Regions from separate parts of the Homo sapiens genome. Here region 1 is linked to region 2. The links come from fine-mapping of genetic effects on gene expression. A gene starts in region 2. The other region holds a variant in brackets. All regions are shown on one strand. Distances are between the middles of the regions.

Region 1 (4,388 bases), 32 kb after region 2:
AAGCTTACAGAATACTAAAGACAAAAAATAAACCAGGAAGCACGTAGAGAAGTGTAGAGAAGTGATGACTTTGAGAAATCAAGAAGGAAGAGGAGTCGAGCAGAAGAGGAGGACCCAGAAGCTTTGAAAGGAAGAGAGAGGTTGGGCATGGTGGCTCATGCCTATGATTCTAGCACTTTGGGAGGCTGAGGTGGGAGGATCACCTGATCCCAGGAGTTTGAGACCAGCCTGGGCAACATAGTGAGACCCTATCTGTATAAAAAAATAAAAATAAAAAAGAAAGGAGGAGAAAGATGGCTGTTCCATTCTAGTAGGAGAGGAGGCAGAGAAAGTGTGTACAGGTGCAGATTCAGGTAAAATAGAGGAGAAGAAAAAGGGAAAGAGGCTGGGCGCAGTGGCTCACACCTGTAATCCCAGCATTTTGGGAGGCCAAGGGGGGTAGATTGCTTGAGCCCAGGAGTTCAAGACCAGCCTGGGCAACATGGCGAAACCCTGTCTCTACAAAAAATTAGCTGGGCTTGGTGGCACGCACCTGTGGTCCAAGTTATTCAGGAGGCTGAGGTGGGAGGATGGCTTGAGCCCAGGAGGCAGAGGTTGCAGTGAGCAGAGATCAAGCCACTGCACTAAACAGCCTCGGTGACAGTGAAACCCTGTCTCAAAGCAAAGAAAGAAAAAGAAAAAGGGAAAGAAGTCATGTTGGAGCTTTGCAGAGAGAGGAGAGGGTGTGATTAGTTACCTCAGAAAGTGGAAATGTGATTCTGAATGACATTTTTGTAAGAAAAAAAGTGGAAATGCGAAGTTTCTAGACATCTGCAGTGTGATTGCCAGGGAACATGAATGGCCAAGGAGTTTTGTAGCTGAGTTGAAAGTGAAACAATCCTCTGGCTGTCTGATTTCCTCTTATTCCAGTACAGGCACCAAGTAGGATGGTTCAACCAGGGCTTGAGTCTCCCAGGTGAGGTGGTTTTAGGAATGTCCATGCATTCTAGATGCTCCTCCTTTCTTTCTCTCTCTCTTTCTTTCTCTCTCTCTTTCTTTCTTTCTTTCTTTCTTTCTTTTTTAGACAGAGTCTCGCTCTGTCACCCAGGCTGGAGTGCAGTGGCACGATCTCGGCTCACTGCAACCTCTGCCTCCCAGATTCAAGTGATTCTCCTGCCTCAGCCTCCTGAGTAGCTAGGATTACAGGTGCGTGCCACCATGCCTGGCTGATTTTTGTATTTTTAGTAGAGATGGGGTTTCACCATGTTGGTCAGGCTGGTCTTGAACTCCTGACCTCATGATCTGCCCGCCTTGGCCTCCCAAAGTGTTGGGATTACAGGTGTGAGCCACCGCGCCTGGCCTGATACTCCTCCTTTCAAGACATGGAACCTCGCTCCCCTCCCGCGAATGTAAACTGGACTTAGTGACTCACTTCTAAAGAATAGAATCAATGAAAGTGATGGTGAGAGACCTAGGAGAGCTGGCACAAACACACTTTGGCTTCCTGTCTGCACTGTCTCTTGGATCTCTTGCTCTGGGGAAGCCAGCTGCCATGTCATGAGACACTCAGCAGCCCTGTGGACAGGTTCACATGGTGAGGAACTGAGGCCCCCCAGCCAATAGCCGTGTAAGTGAACCACCTGGGAAGGCGATCCTCCAGCCCCACACAAACCCTCAGAAGACGGTAGCCCTGGCCAGTATCTTGACTGCAAACCTCACGAGAGACTGTGAGGCAGAACCTCCAAGTTAATGCTCCCACATTCCTGATCTACAGAAACTGTGAGATAATACATTTTTTTTTTCATTTAAACCACAAAGTGTGGGGTAATTTTTATTTATTTAGGGCAAAGCTGACACATTCCAGATAAGGCTCCCAAACTCGAGATGCTCTCTCAACAACTGGCCCAAAGGACTTTCTGCGCAGCCACTGCCTCTCCTGCTGCTCCTTGCCTCAAGTCCCCTACTACATGGTGTGATATGCACTTGTGGGGTCTAGTTCACTGCACATGGCAAGATGCACTCTCTGCAATCCTTGAGATTGTTCAATTTTCTCCTGTAATCTGTTAAGGGGGCAAATCAGATTCATCAGTTTTCTCATCTCTAACCTTGCATTTTTAGAATAAATCCAGCTTTGGCACACTGCGTTCTCTTCCTATATATTACCAAATTCATTTTGCTAATAATTTGCTTAGGATTTTTCCATCTGTGTTTATGAGCCTGCAGTATTTCTTTCTCATGCAGTCTCCATTAGGTTTTCATGTCAAGAACACTACCCTTGTGACATGTGGAGGGGAGGTCCTTCTTTTCTTCAATACTCTGGAAGAATTTATACAAGATAGAATTATTTGTTTTTTCAATGTTTGGTTAATCTTACTGGTGGAGCCATATAGGCCTGGAGTTTTCTTTGTGGTAAGACTTTGTCTACTTATTCAATTTGTTTAATGTTATAGGACTAATCAGGGTTTCTATTTCTATTTGTTTTAGTTTTGGTACACTATATTTTTCTATAAGGTCTTGTTCATTTTTATATACATCTAAATATAAAAGGGCTCTTCAAAAAGCTCATGGAAAATGCATCTTATGAAAAAACAATGCATGAATTTCAAAAATTTTTGGTACCAAAATAAACTCATACTAACTTGTTATAACATGTCTGGGGCCGGGTGTGGTGGCTCACGCCTGTAATCCCAACAGTTTGAGAGGCCAA[G/A]GTGGAAGGATCACTTAAGCCCAGGAGTTCAAGACCAGCCTGGTGGACAAAGTGAGACCCTGTCTCTATTACAAATTTAAATTTTTTCTTTTTTCTTTTTGAGACGGAGTCTCGCTCTGTTGCCCAGGCTGGAGTGCAGTGGTGCGATCTCGGCTCATTGCAAGCTCCACCTCCTGGGTTCACACCATTCTCCTGCCTCAGCCTCCCAAGTAGCTGGGACTACAGGCGCCCACCACCACGTCTGGCTAATTTTTTATATTTTTAGTAGAGACAGGGTTTCACTGTGTTGGCCAGGATGGTGTCGGTCTCCTGACCTCGTGATCCGCCCGCCTTGGCCTCCTAAAGTGCTGGGATTACAGGCGTGAGCCACCGCTCCTGGCCTGGAAAAAAAAAAAAATCTTTAAAGGGCACCTATTTTTCTTTTCTTTTTTTTTTTTTTTCTGAGATGGAGTCTCGCTCCATCACGCATGCTGGAATGCCGCGGCACGATCTTGGCTCACTGCAACCTCTGCCTCCCCAGTTCAGGTGATTCTCCTTCCTTAGCCTCCTGAATAGCTGGGACTACAGGCACACGCCACCACACCCGGCTAATATTTTGCATTTTTAGTAGAGATGGGGTTTCACCATGTTGGCCAGGCTGGTCTTGAACTCCTGACCTCAAGTGATCCTCCCCCCCTTGGCCTTCCAAAGTGCCGGGATTACAGGTGTGACCCATCATGCCCAGCCGAGGGCACCCATTTTTCTTTAGTTAATATAAAAAAACTGTGTTGACATGGTTAAATTCCCAGGATCCTCATTTCTAAAGAGATGGACCCAATGATACCATTGCTCACAAAAGTGTCTTAATCTTGTTGGAGGTTATGTTGAGAATCAAAGTTTATTTATTTTTATTTTTATTTTATTTTTATTTATTTATTTATTTTTTTGAGACGGAGTCTCACTCTGTCACCCAGGCTGGAGTGCAGTGGCACCATCTCAGCTCACTGGAACCTCTGTCCTCTGAGTTCAAGCAATTCTCCTGCCTCAGCCTCCTGAGTAGCTGGGATTACAGGCGCCTGCCACTGTGCCCAGCTAATTTTTATATTTTTAGTATATAAAACTATATATATAGTTTTGGCCAGGCTGGTCTTGAGCTCCTGACCTTGTGATCCACCCGCCTCGGCTTCCCAAAGTGCTAGGATTACAGGCGTGAGCCACTGCGCCCGGCCTATATTTTTTTATTTTTATCTTTTAATTCAATTTTTCTACAAACTTTTTGAATATACAGGTTGAGTATCCCTCATCTGAAATGCTTGGGACCAGATATGTTTCAGATTTTTTTTTTGAATGCTTGCATATATAATGAGATTTCTTGGGAATGAACCCAAGTCTAAACACAAAATTCATTTATGTTTCATATACACCTTATACACATAGCCTGAAGGTAATTTTATATATGTCATGTCAGTGCTTAAAAAGTTTGGATTTTGGAGCAGTTTAGATTTTAGATTTTCAGATTAGGGGTGTTTGACTTGTATTAAATTAATATGTATTCCTTACATAAAATATAAATATAAAACTTGGCAGGCCGGGCATGGTGGCTCACCCTTGTAATCCCAGCACTTTGGGAGGCTGAGGTGGGCGGATCATGAGGTCAGGAGATCCAGACCATCCTGGCTAACACAGTGAAACCCCATCTCTACTAAAAATAAAATACAAAAAA
Region 2 (4,388 bases):
GTTCAAAGGCCAGCCACCCAGTAAATGGAGTAGGAAGAAAAAGAAGGTCCAAACTCAGGCAGTCAAAGTCCACAGCCCAAGGGCTTTACCCTGTTGGATGCTATTTCTCAAGAACTGGCAGGTCCAGAAACTTTAGCTGAATGAGTAAGTGGGGTTCAGAAGTGCTGGGAGGCTCAGTTGCCAGAAGAGAACCCTGAATCAGCCCCAGAGGTAACCCAACTTTTGGGAACACTGAAACCTCACTATATCCAATCACAGATGTGATTAGGTTACCAAGTCCGGCCAGGCAGTCACAGAGGTACAAACGAGGCCATGCTCCCAACATAATATTTACTTCTAAAACCAAGGCAGACCAGATTCCTGCCCTGGACTCTAAGGCCACAGCTGGTACCAAGTTCAGGGAACGGCCAGGTTCACCTTCTATACAAACCTCTTCCCCCACCCATCCCTTCTATTGCTGCCTCCATAACAAACCTCTCACCACAGTGATTCCTGCTACCTTCTCTGTTTAGAAGATGAAAAAGAATGACCTGGGGGGACTGATCAAGTTACTTAGGATAGGGAATAACCCCAATTTTACATCTGAAGCCCCCCAGGATCTGTAGCTGTTTCTTCACAGGAAATTTCTCTTGTAGTTTACCATTTCTTCCCCCCATACCAAAGGCTTCTGCCTTTTCTGCCTCACTGTTCTCCTAGGGGACATACCACCAACCCGAGAAGCACACCTCTCCCTGAGGCCTTGCAAGTAAAGATGAAACAATGCGATGACTGAACTAAGTGGCTTTTTTATTAGAGAAAGCCAGAATTACAAAAGACTTAAGAGTTGGCATTGGGGCCCTTCTTCTTGCCAAAGGTGGGCACAACGTTGACAAAGCGCCGGTTGTACTGCATCCGCCGCTTAGCCCGACCTGTCTTCTTCTTCTTCTTCTCCTGTTTGGCCACCTGGAGAAGGGAAGGTTAATCAGGCCCTGGTTCCTGTCTTCCACACCTAGCATCCCTTCCCTCAGGCTCATCTCCAGGGAGGGAGAAGGCAAACCGAGTAAGAGCCCAGGGACTTGGTTTAGCTGTGAAAGGAAAAAAAGTCCTAACACCATGACCACTAATACTCTCACTCACCTTAGGAGTCTGACCTCTCACTTTTCCAGCACGGGCCAGGGAACCATGGACTTTACCTGTAGTGGGAAAGGAAGGCACCAGCAGGTAAGAGCAAGAAGGTGCCACCCAGCAGAACCCCTCTTTTCTCAATTCAAGCCTTTAAAGAGAAGCTGCGCCCAATAGGTAATGAGAACAAAGTTGCAGATATTTGACCTTGAAATCTTAAGTTTCATTTCAGGATCTTCCAGCTTCTAATTTTATAGAGCACTTTGGGGGCCCTGGTCTGACCTAATTTTAGTGTGGAAGCTGATAACCAGACTAGGATCTCGTGATGTGACTGAAATACAACTACACTCTGGCTCAGTCTCCCATGGACGTCTGTGTTCAACATGAGGGATGTAAACAGGAAGAATCACTCTGAACTGAAGACAGTGAGAAGTACTCTATTACCATAGGTGTGACACTCAGCTGTCAGGACTATGCACCCCACACTCACTAGACGCTTACCGGTACTTCAAAGAACATTCCTCTCTCACTCACCTCCAAGCATGCGGCCTGCTACTTCCAGGGTAGTCAGGGCCTCCACCCCGCACTGGCCCAGAGTGGCCTCATCCTCCAGGGGCGCGCCTGCCAGGAGCACGACTTGATCTTCCGGGGCAATGCCCTCCAGTGAGGCTACATGAGCCTACAGGGAAAGATAAGGCTCGTAAGCGTTCCCTCGGGCCGCGAGAGTGAAGAGCACAAGAAAATGGAACCCAGGGCGCACCAAGCAGCCTTACCTTGATCTGGGCGACCGTTTCCTGGCCGGTCACCTCGAAGGTGTGTAGCTCCTGGGCGCGGACAAAGAGCTGCATATTGGCGACTGAGTAAAGAAAAGACGGCTTGTAAGAGAAGCCAAGAAATGCTCTGGGATAAAGGAGATTTGGGAGTGGAAAGCGGTCCAGAAACGATCGCGACGGGATGGTGGTCGCGGCGGCTCACGTGGGGAAGGCCAGGCCTCCCAAGGAGTTCGGATAGGGACTGGAGCAGGGCCACGGAGCAGGCCCCGTTCTTCGGTTCCCCCCGCGCCTTCTGACCCCGCAGCCAACCTGCTACAAGCCCTTCGGATCCAGCCAAGGCCCCATTCTTACCTGAACGGCGGTCCCAGCTACCGCGAAGATGGAGTCGAGAAAGAGGAAGAAGCGAGGGCGCGTCAGTACAGACCGTGGGCTGCGTGTCACGTCACTGCTGAGCGACCGCGCGGTTCCCTGCTATTTGTACCGCCCAAGGCAGTCCTAGCTCCGCCCCTTTACGCTCGCACCGGCGAACCTGCCTGGGCAGGCAGCTCGCGCAGGACGGGGCGGGACCAGACAGTTGCGCGCACAGAAGGCTGGCGTAGCAGGTAAAGATGGCAGCTACCATGTTCCGGGCTACGCTGCGGGGATGGAGAACCGGTGTCCAGCGGGGCTGCGGGCTACGGCTGTTGGTGAGAGCGCTGAGCGAGGAGCTGAGGGCATCGCGTGGGTGTGAGGCTCAGTGTTAATCATTGTTAACCCCGAAAACTAAGGCATTCCTACTTGGGGCCTTAGTTTTGCCGTTTTCGATCAGGAGAACTTGTCCCGAGTGTACATATAGAATCGAGAGGGAAAATGGTAGACTGGGGTGCTCTTTGGGAGCACTTAACACAGTGCCTGGCAGTGTCTATATAAGCCACAACGTTTCAGGTAAGGGGCGGGGTCCTAGCATATGAGTGTGCGTGGGGAATTATGATTGCCTTAATTCTTTTTTTTTTTTTTTTTGAGACGGAGTCTCGCTCTGTCGCCCAGGCTGGAGGGCAGTGGCGCGATCTCGGCCCACTGCAAGCTCCGCCTCCCAGATTCACGCCATCCTCCTGCCTCAGCCTCCCGAGTAGCTGGGACTACAGGCTCCCGCCACCATGCCCGGCTAATTTTTTGTATTTTTAGTAGAGACGGGGTTTCACCTTGTTAGCCAGGATGGACTGGATCTTCTGACCTCGTGATCCGCCCGCCTCGGCCTCCCAAAGTGCTGGGATTACAGGCATGAGCCGCCGAACCCGTCTGATTGCCTTAATTCTTAAGGCAATCATAAGATTAAACATCACTATATCCCGTCACAGATGTGATTAGGTTAGCAAGGCCAGCCAGGCAATCATGGAGGTACAAACAAGGCCACGCTGCCAATATAATAATATCTATTTCTAAAACCGAGACAGAAAGTTAAGCCTTAAGTTTCTAAAGGCTTGATTGACTTTTCAGAAGTGTACATATACTCTTTTGCATCCCACAGAAATCCTGAGAGGCAGACCATTCAGAGTACCTGAGCCTCCTTTCCATCCCATCTGTACCCTGCACCATGGAAAACCAAAGACTGGTGCTATCTTATGTCAACCTAAATAACAGACTCTAAAAGAAAAGGATATTTATTCGGGAATGGGTATAGACTATGTGCTTATCAGGGAGGTAAAAGAAGACAAAGGTTTTTAACAGAAAAATGGGCCAGGCACGGTGGCTCACGCCTGTAATCCCAGCACTTTGGGAGGCCAAGGCGCGTAGATCACCTGGAGTCAGGAGTTTGAGACAAGCCTGGCCAACATGGTGAAACCCGTCTCTAGAAAAAATACAAAAATTAGCCGGGTGTGATGGCGTGTGCCTGTAGTCCCAGCTACTTGGGAGGCTGAGGTAGGAGACTTGCTTGAACTTGGGAGGCGGAGGTTGCAGTGAGCCGAGATCACACCACTGCACTCCAGCCTAGGTGACAGAGTGAGACTCTATCTAAAAAAATAATAAAAATAAATAAAGGAAAGGAAAAATGAGTATTACATAATTGTTTTGAGACAGTTATCCTTGGCTACAAGGATGAATAACATGGGTGGTGCCAGTTCAAGATTGGACAGGCAGTTGTTGGACAGATGGCCATGCAGGAATTTGTTTTGTTTTGTTTTGTTTGAGAGAGTCTCGTCGCTCTGTCACCGAGGCTGGAGTGCAATGGTGCGATCTTAGCTCACTGCAACCTCCACCTCCTGGGTTCAAGCAATTCTCCTGCCTCAGCCTCCCAAGTAGCTGGGATTACAGGCATGCACCACCATGCCCGGCTAATTTTTGTATTTTCAGTAGAGATGGGGTTTCGCCATGTTGGCCAGGCTGGTGTTGAACTCCTGACCTTAGATGATCCTCCTGCCTCAGCCTCCAAGGTGCTGGGATTACAGGCGTGAGCCACCTTGCCCAGCCAGAAATATTTTTTTGTGTAAGGTTGAAGTGGCCTTTGTGCAAGGCTGTGGTTTTTGCAGTCTTTTG

What was found. PIP is the estimated chance that this variant, and not a neighbour inherited with it, causes the effect.
Region 1: its variant is fine-mapped to the expression of MRPL49 in whole blood (INTERVAL, PIP 0.92).

What each region holds. Positions count from the first base shown.
Region 1 is chr11:65,151,503-65,155,890 of GRCh38, forward strand. No RefSeq gene overlaps it. Among named protein-coding and RNA genes, the nearest start is that of SPDYC, 17 kb to the right of the region's middle. RefSeq lists a silencer at 1,212-1,391. The variant G/A (reference allele first, on the strand shown) is at 2,687.
Region 2 is chr11:65,119,865-65,124,252 of GRCh38, forward strand. It overlaps MRPL49 (mitochondrial ribosomal protein L49), which reads left to right and starts at 2,457. Exons shown (of 4, transcript NM_004927.4): 1 at 2,457-2,560. The coding sequence starts at 2,483. FAU (FAU ubiquitin like and ribosomal protein S30 fusion) reads right to left here and starts at 2,270. Exons shown (of 5, transcript NM_001997.5): 1 at 2,226-2,270; 2 at 1,875-1,957; 3 at 1,636-1,780; 4 at 1,117-1,172; 5 at 766-942. The coding sequence starts at 1,949. The coding sequence ends at 817. RefSeq lists enhancers at 2,228-2,317, 2,478-2,747.